Regions from separate parts of the Homo sapiens genome. Here region 2 is reported to be linked to region 1. Evidence: microRNA targets listed by miRTarBase, many of them from high-throughput screens and not tested one by one. Region 1 holds a microRNA gene; the other region holds the end of a gene's coding sequence. Distances are from middle to middle.
Evidence for each region. Region 1 holds the annotated microRNA hsa-miR-6823-5p (UCAGGGUUGGUAGGGGUUGCU, at 2,693-2,713, shown strand). A microRNA usually pairs through its seed, bases 2 to 8, with sites in the 3' UTR of a target mRNA and lowers its output. Matches are read on the target gene's strand: a 7mer-m8 pairs with bases 2 to 8, a 7mer-A1 pairs with bases 2 to 7 and ends in A, and an 8mer does both.

Region 2: miRTarBase lists CHDH as a target of hsa-miR-6823-5p. Seed matches in the 3' UTR shown: 8mer at 1,336-1,343.

The regions. Positions count from the first base shown.
Region 1 is chr3:48,548,643-48,552,708 of GRCh38, reverse strand. MIR6823 (microRNA 6823) reads left to right here and starts at 2,688; the gene lies at 2,688-2,748. PFKFB4 (6-phosphofructo-2-kinase/fructose-2,6-biphosphatase 4) reads left to right here. Exons shown (of 14, transcript NM_004567.4): 2 at 2,475-2,591; 3 at 2,749-2,845. RefSeq lists enhancers at 1-287, 288-951, 952-1,613, 1,614-2,277.
Region 2 is chr3:53,814,188-53,818,253 of GRCh38, reverse strand. CHDH (choline dehydrogenase) reads left to right here. Exons shown (of 9, transcript NM_018397.5): 9 at 59-4,066. The coding sequence ends at 477. Among named protein-coding and RNA genes, the nearest start is that of CHDH, 30 kb to the left of the region's middle.

The DNA of each region.
Region 1 (4,066 bases):
GGGGGTGGCCCCATCAGCGGGAGCAGGGTAGATGCAGGATTTCCTCCTGCTTAGCAGCTGTCGCACTGCCCTTGGTTGCTTGAGAGCCCGGCCACCTGGCCGGGAACTATGCAAACAATGCACAATGCGGGCCTCAGCTGTCCACCGGCCCTGAGGAGGCAAGGCCTTGCCTAACTTGTTTTCCTCTCACCTTAGCTAATACTGAGAGTTCTCTGCAAGTTTCTCCACTCTCACTCAGTCAGCCTGTTTCATGGGGTCTCCTCCTTCCCGCCCCTGAGGCTCACCATTTGGGTCACCTTTAAACAAGGGGAATGCACAGGAGTGATGGAGCCCCCACTGGCAAGCAAGGCCCTTTGTTTCTCTGCAGGGCCTGCCTGGGGCCAGGCCACCGCCTCCATGCCCTGAGTCCCAAGGGCAGTCGGTGCCGAGGTACACCTATGGCTTTAGCTCAGTATCCGCCAGGGTAGGACAGAGGGCACAGCTTCCCAGAAGTGCCCAGGCTCTTGGATAGCACTAGGCTTCTCTGAGGGATGACTGCCCCATTTTACAGCTGGGGACACCGAGGCTCAGAGTTCCCAATGAGTGTCAGACTCAAGATGGCAACCCAGGCCTGACTCCTGATCCCCTGCGGAAGTGCTTCTGGGGCCTCTGTGCTCTGAGGGAAACAACTTGTTGGTGGGGACAGTCTGTCTAGGCAACCAGGTGAAGGCACTTGCAGAACCAAGAAGAGGGGCAGTGACAGGTCCCCACATCTGTTCATCTGCCTGTCTGCTATGGTTTTACCTGACCCAGGTCCTAAGGATGAGGAAAAGGAAGCTTCCTGAGGCTTCTGACGTGAGACCGCGTTTGATGGCACTGGAAACTGAGCTGAGGGCTGGGCTCACGCCTGTAATCCCAGCACTTTGGGAGGACGAGGCAGGCAGATCACCTGAGGTCAGGAATTCGAGACCAGCCTGACTAACATAATGAAATCCTGTCTCTACTGAAAATACAAAAATTAGCCAGGTGTGGTGGCATGTGCTTGTAATCCCAGCTACTTGAGAGGCTGAGGCACGAGAATTGCTTGAGCCCGGGAGGCAGAGGTTGCAGTGAGCTGGGTACCAGTGTCCTCCAGCACTCCAGCCTGGGCAAGGGCGACAGAGCGAGACTCCCTCTCAAAAAAAAAAAAAAAAAAAAAAAAAAAAAAAAAGAAGGCTGGAGGTGATGGCTCACACCTGTAATCCCAGCACTTTGGGAGGCCCAGGCAGTCGGATCACCTGAGGTCAGGAGTTTTGAGACCAGCCTGACCAACATGCCGAAACCCCGTCTCTACTGAAAATACAAAAATTAGCCAGGTGTGGTGGCAGGTGTCTGTAATCCTAGATACTTGGGAGGCTGAGGCAGGAGAATCGCTTGAACCTGGGAGGCAGAGGTTGCAGTGAGCCAAGATCGCACCACTGCCCTCCAGCCTGGGCAACAGAGTGAGACTCCGTCTCAAAAAAAAAAAAAAAAAAAGAAAAGTGAGCTAGGTCCCATAAGATGAAGCTGGCAGTTCTGCTGCCTTGGTATCTGTTCTAGCCAGCTGGGAATATAGGGGGCTGTATTCAGATCCTTCCGTGCCTCTAGCCTGGCATCTTCTCTGGCTGGCACACTGACCTGTGGCACATGGATGGTGGTGGGTGGGCTATCAGAGGGACTGTCCTTGTGGGCATCAGTCTGGGTCTCTGGTCTCAACCCCTTGTGGTCCTTACCCTGAGAGACTTCTAGATGCCTCCCTCCCTGATCCTGCCCACAGTTCCTGAGCACCAGCGCTGTGCCAGGCCCCAGGGCCCTAAAGGGCTCAGATACCACAGGGCTTCTTCTGCTGTAAGTGATCAGTCTAGAGAGAAGAGTGTCATTAGTGAGGTGACCAGGATTGAGGGTGAGGGGTGTTCCCGGTGGCCATGGAGATGCCTTGGGGAAAGGACTCATTGAGGAAGTGACTTTTTAGCTGGGCTTTGTATGATGAAAAGAAGTTCACCACAGGGAGGGCATGCAGTGGGGCTATGTGTTCTGGGAGCACTGAGTGATGGATGGGGTGGGAGAGATGTAAAAAGGTTAGGGTATGGATTCCTGGATGACAGAGGCAGGGTGTTGATTACCCTGCTGGGTTTTGGTCCTGTCCTTCATGCGGTGGGGACCCCCCTAGCCATGTTTAGCCAGTGGCAAGTTCGGTTGACTTTATGCCTGGTGGTGCACATCAGGATGAAAAGGGCTGGAGAGATCCCACTGTGTCTGCCAGAGCCCAGGCGGGCCTGGGGAAGGGGGACATGCCAACGGTGGCTTGAAACCAGCATCTGGGGCCACTCCAGGAGCTGTGTGGGGATGCTAGGAAGCCAAGAAGATACGTCTGATGCCAGTCCCATGCCCTGAGGCTGAGAGACCACAGGCTGAGAGGGAGGGGTGCGCTGGGAGGGTCCCAGCCCTCATCTGACACTGTGCTGCTTGCCTTTTAGTGTGCATGACCAACTGCCCAACTCTCATTGTCATGGTGGGCCTGCCCGCCAGGGGCAAGACCTACATCTCCAAGAAGCTGACTCGATACCTGAACTGGATTGGTGTGCCCACTCGGGGTGAGGCTTGGCCCCAGCTGTCTAAGGGGAGCTTTGTGGGGCATGACGAAGAGAATAGAGAAGGCCTATTCTCTATTATTTGGCCTGGGGTTGGGTCAAGGTCAGGGTTGGTAGGGGTTGCTGTTGCTGTGAAAGCTGAGCCTCTCCTTCCCTCCAGAGTTCAATGTTGGCCAGTATCGCCGGGACGTGGTCAAGACCTACAAATCTTTTGAATTTTTTCTCCCCGACAATGAAGAGGGCCTGAAAATCAGGAAGTAAGTATATGTGTTGGGTGTGGGGGGAGAGGTTGCTGGGGGACCCAGTGTGGAGAAAGCTAACACATTACTGACCATTTACTGAGAAGCCCCTGGAGTGGAGCTGCTGGTGAATGACTGAGCTACTCCTGAGCCCTGGCCTTGCCCAGCCCTGATGGCTGTGTGACAGGGCTGTGTGACAAGGCTGGTCTCTGGATCTCTCAGGATGTGGTGGGGGTGGGAGGTGATGGGTTTGGGGATGAGAGGAGAGGGTGTGTTGTGTGGCCTCCTGGTGGCTGGGCCATTCCTGCCCTGGGGTTAAGGAACCCTTGGGAAGGACAGAGCTTCAGGGAGGTAAGAGGGGCTCAGCCCATGCAGGTCGTTGGAGCTGCTGCCTGGAGGTCACGCTCGCTCACCCCAGCGCCCCGTGGGGATGGCTGCTGCTGGGGAAGGGAACCTGAGTGAGTGCAGGCATACAGGCCTTAGGGATGGAGCTGGGGGTGGGGGGCTTCCTCCCTTGCCCCAGGATAAGCTCTCTCCTGTGTATTTGGAGCATGTTCTTGGTGTGTGATTGCTGGTGCGATTGGCTTTGCATTGACATCTCCTAGATGCTGCTGGGTGAGTCGTTCACACTTCTGCTGTTACTCTGGAGATAGAAATATGTATATGCTACCGCCCCACCCTCAACAACTTTCAGACTTGAACTGAGTCCTTTCTTCAAGGAACTGAGCACCAGCTGGTGGTCTGAGCAGCCATGCTGTGCTTTTCTCAGGAGGTGTTAGCTGTGGTCTTGAGAAGCCCCTTATCAACCTAGGGTGGCAGAGACTTGCTCTTGGCCCAGCCATCAGGATAGGGCAGTGAGCAGAGGTTGACCCAGCTCTAGTGACTTCCCCAAATCAAGCCCAGTGGCTACCAGGCTGCCACTGGGGTCCACACTAGGCTACCCGTTCCTTCTCTGGCCACCAGGGGGCAGGAACTCCCTGCTGTGGGGCTTGGACCTTCAGACTGGAGACTGCCTTTGTTCTTGCATCGGTGTGGCTGGGCCAGGCTGTGGCACCAAGAAGGGAAGGGGAGCCTGATATTCAGGTTTCTATGGCCAAATTGTGGGTAAAAATCAAGGCTGGACCCTCTGGTTATATTGAGCCAGATAAAAAGTAGAGGACTAATGTCTGAACCTACCGTGTGCTGGGTTCTTGATGCCCATTGTCACCCCCTACTTTTACAGATGAGGAAACTGAGGCT
Region 2 (4,066 bases), 5.3 Mb from region 1:
CCAGTGAGGCCAGCACGGGCAAAAGGAGGGGTCCTCACCTGTTTCTTCTCCTCGACAGAAACTGATATTGAGGATTTCCGTCTGTGTGTGAAGCTCACCAGAGAAATTTTTGCACAGGAAGCCCTGGCTCCGTTCCGAGGGAAAGAGCTCCAGCCAGGAAGCCACATTCAGTCAGATAAAGAGATAGATGCCTTTGTGCGGGCAAAAGCCGACAGCGCCTACCACCCCTCGTGCACCTGTAAGATGGGCCAGCCCTCCGATCCCACTGCCGTGGTGGATCCGCAGACAAGGGTCCTCGGGGTGGAAAACCTCAGGGTCGTCGATGCCTCCATCATGCCTAGCATGGTCAGCGGCAACCTGAACGCCCCCACAATCATGATCGCAGAGAAGGCAGCTGACATTATCAAGGGGCAGCCTGCACTCTGGGACAAAGATGTCCCTGTCTACAAGCCCAGGACGCTGGCCACCCAGCGCTAAGACAGTTGCTGCTGGAGGATGACCAGGGAAGCCCCCTGATAAGCCAAGAGGGCCAGCACAGCCCTTGCTCCCAGGCTCCTGCCTGAAACTATCTAGCACACTAGGACCCAGGTGGTACCCTACTCAGTGGCTGAGAATTGGATAAAGTCTTGGGAAATGAGACAAGTACTGGGCAGTGAATCCAGCTCCTTTTCCCCAGCCTTTCCCTGTGGGCCATTTGGGGAAGGCCAGCATTCAGCCTGAGATGTTCCTCCCTGCCTCCTGGAGGGACAGAAGGGGAGGATGGTTAACTCCTGCCGCATCCTTTTTCTTGTGTTCACGTGGCATTCTCTAACCCAGGGCAGTGGTTCCTTCCCAGGCCATGCACAGAGGCTGGGTGCCTGCCAGACCCACGGAGGGTTCGCGAAGGAAGGGGCATCCTCCTTCTTGAGCTGCAAGCTTTAGCTGAGGCAGTAAGTCACACAGTAGTTAGTTCAGCCTGGGCTGGCACATAAGTCCCCAGTGTCCCTGTTGAGAGGGGAAAGTTGCCTGCTGGTTGAAAAACTGGCTTTTCCTTTCTCGCTGCCTAATTTCACTCTCAGAGTGAGGCAGGTAACTGGGGCTCCACTGGGTCACTCTGAGAGGGTTGTGGCTCTGGTTCTTATTAAACCAGGGCCAGGTGCAGGGCTCACACCTGTAATCCCAGCACTTTGGGAAGGTCACTTGAGCTCAGGAGTTCAAGACCAGCCTGGGCAACATAGTGAGACCTTGTCTCTGGAAAACAATTAGCTGGGCATGGTGGTACACACCTGTAGTCCCAGCTACTTGGGAGGCTGAGGCGGGAGGATGGCTTTAGCCCAGGAGGTTGAGGCTCCTGTGAACCCTGATGGCACCACTGCACTCCAGCCTGGGTGACAGGGTGAGACCCTGTCTCAAAAAAAAAAAAAAAAAAAAAAACCTGAGATTTTTTTGGACCTTATTCAAGGGGAGAGGAGTCTGGAGGGAATGCCGCTTGGCTTCACTACCAAAGGTTTTATGACTTAGCATTTTAAAAGGTTTTCCTTTTACCAAGAAATGCAGAAACCAAGAGCAAACCCCACGTACCAGATCACTGATTCCTACTGAAGCAGCTAGCCCGAGAAAGGACTCTCTCATACTGGTCTTGGGAAATGACTTGGCAGCCTGAGCCATCCCAGCAGTGGACAAGGATGGTTAATTCTTATTCTGTAGACGTCCACAGGAACAGACTAGGATGGAAAACACAGTTAAGCACAGCCATGCACCCTGTGGCTGTAGAAATGCCCCTGTGTGAAAGAAAAATAAATTCAAGACTGGAGTTTTGGAGGAAAAAAAATACAAGTAGCATTTACAACAGCTCTTTGCTCTTTAAATTTCTTACCATTCAATAAAGTGATCCAGTCACTCACATTTGAACTGAGATGCCTTCTCCAGACTGTTCTGACAAGGTAATGAAAATAAAATGCACTTGGATTTTTCCAGACATCCACATCCACCGTCAAGGGCTGGGAAGAAAAGCATTGTTGCGTGGAAACCTGCAGCTATACTAGGCCCAGAATAAGGACGGGAGGAAATTGGGGGATTCCAGGCTTTGCTCGGATCTGAGAGGATTGGGGCGGCTTACAGACTGGGGCGGGGGGGGGGGGCGTCCGACAGCCACAAGTTAGTTTTCTGAGAAAAACCTTCGAGAGAGGCAGCAGGAAGAAACCCATCACACCTCTCCTTTTAAAAATCTTAAGCAGCTCTTGTTTAATCTTACCTGTATTTTTTAAAATTTTTGTTCGAAGAGAGGGTCAAGAAAGAAAATTCTAAACCGGCCAAGAGACTTATTTCTCCTACGGAGGGTCCCCACCTGCCCCACAGCAGCAGTCCATGGCCATCAGTCACCTGGGTCTCGGGGCTGCCTGCAAGAGTGCAGAAACAGGAGTTCAGGTGCCAGCCCCGTAACTTGGAGGGCCTCGTGCAGCTTTCCTGCTGGAGCGTGTGTGGATTCAGGGGCAGGGGATAGTCCTGGACCAACCATGACTGTGCTGACCCTTCTTCTCTGGAACAGGTATGGATATGGCAGGGTGACAGTCACTTAGTTCTACCATCTCTGTGTCCCATGGGTGTGTCAGTGTCTGAGACCATGGTGGGTTCAGTCTGGTGGCTGTATTTTAAAATAAGCAAAACGTCATATGGTAAGAGGAGCCCATTGGTGATGCTGCTCAATTGCACCCAGGCCCTTCTTTCACTCTCAAATACTTAGCCATGTTCTACACAATCGCACAATTTGGCCATAAACAGGAATGAGGTTTAAAAGAAAAGATGGTAAGTGTCACATGTCCAGAACCTGAGCGTTCCCCTGCCATGAAGGGAGTCTTTCATTCACCCCAGGAGGAGAGGCTGTCACCTGAGGAAGCCAGCATGGGGGAGAAAGGCACTTGCTACAAAGTGGGGTGCACAGAGGGTACCCCCCCATCTTCAGTCTCATAGGGAATTGGGCCCCTTGGCCAAAAGCTTGCAGTACCTAAAAACAGAGAAACGTGCTTTGCAAAAATGGCTCAAAGAGCACAACAGAATGCGCTGTCCATGTGCCCAGTGCTCTCAGGAGCCCTGACCTATTGCAGAAGCCTGTGTTGAAGCCGCTGCACTAGTAGAAGGCAGCTCCTGATGGAATAGGGGATAGGGGTGGGCTGTGTGGGAGCCAAGAGCATCTGGCAGCCTGACTGGAGATGGTGAGTTCCTGAAGCAGGAGTTGTAGGCACCCAAACATCTAGTCTTTCTGCTTGTAGCGAAGGTTGCAGGCATCATCTCCACGAATTCAAATAGATTCTTCTTGGCTAGGCATGGTGGCTCACGCCTGTAATCCCAGCACTTTGCAAGGCTGAGGTGGGTGGATCACTTGAGGCCAGGAGTTTGAGACCAGCCTGGCCAACATGGTGAAACCCCGTCTCTACTAAAAATACAAAAATTAGCTGGGCATGGTGGTGCACGCCTGTAGTCCCAGCTACTTGGGAGGCCGATACAGGAGAATCGCTTGAACCTGGGTGGCGCAGGCTGCAGTGAGCCAAGATTGCACCACTGCACTCCACCCTGGGTGACAGAGTGAGACTGTCTCAAAAAAAAACAACAAAAAAACAGATTCTTCTCCACCCAACCATGTCCCGCCACTCAGAAGTGGTTTCATGCTTCTACTGATAAGCCAACTTAACATCAGATCCAATACAGATTTTTTAAAGATAAAATACCATCTCTACTGGACCTGTTTAGTGGCTCAGGCTGCCCTCACAGGACATCCCTGAGACCACCCTGTCACTCTTGATGTTGGAACCAGGGCCCAGGCCTGCTCCTCATTGTCTCCTGCCCTCCTAGTCCCCAGGAGAGGAAAAGAAATACTGTTTTAGAGAAATAACATTTTCAACAAAACATCCCTGGAGTCAGATTTTGAGTTGGGGTGGGCTAATCAGGGAGTCGGGGCTCTCTGCGTGATGTCAGTTCTATGGCTAACTGGTTTTTCTAAACCAGCCAGCTGCCTATCAAAACAGTACAACTTTTCTAGGAAATGCAATTGGCAAAGACACTTACGATGCTGAGAAGTACACAAGGTGAA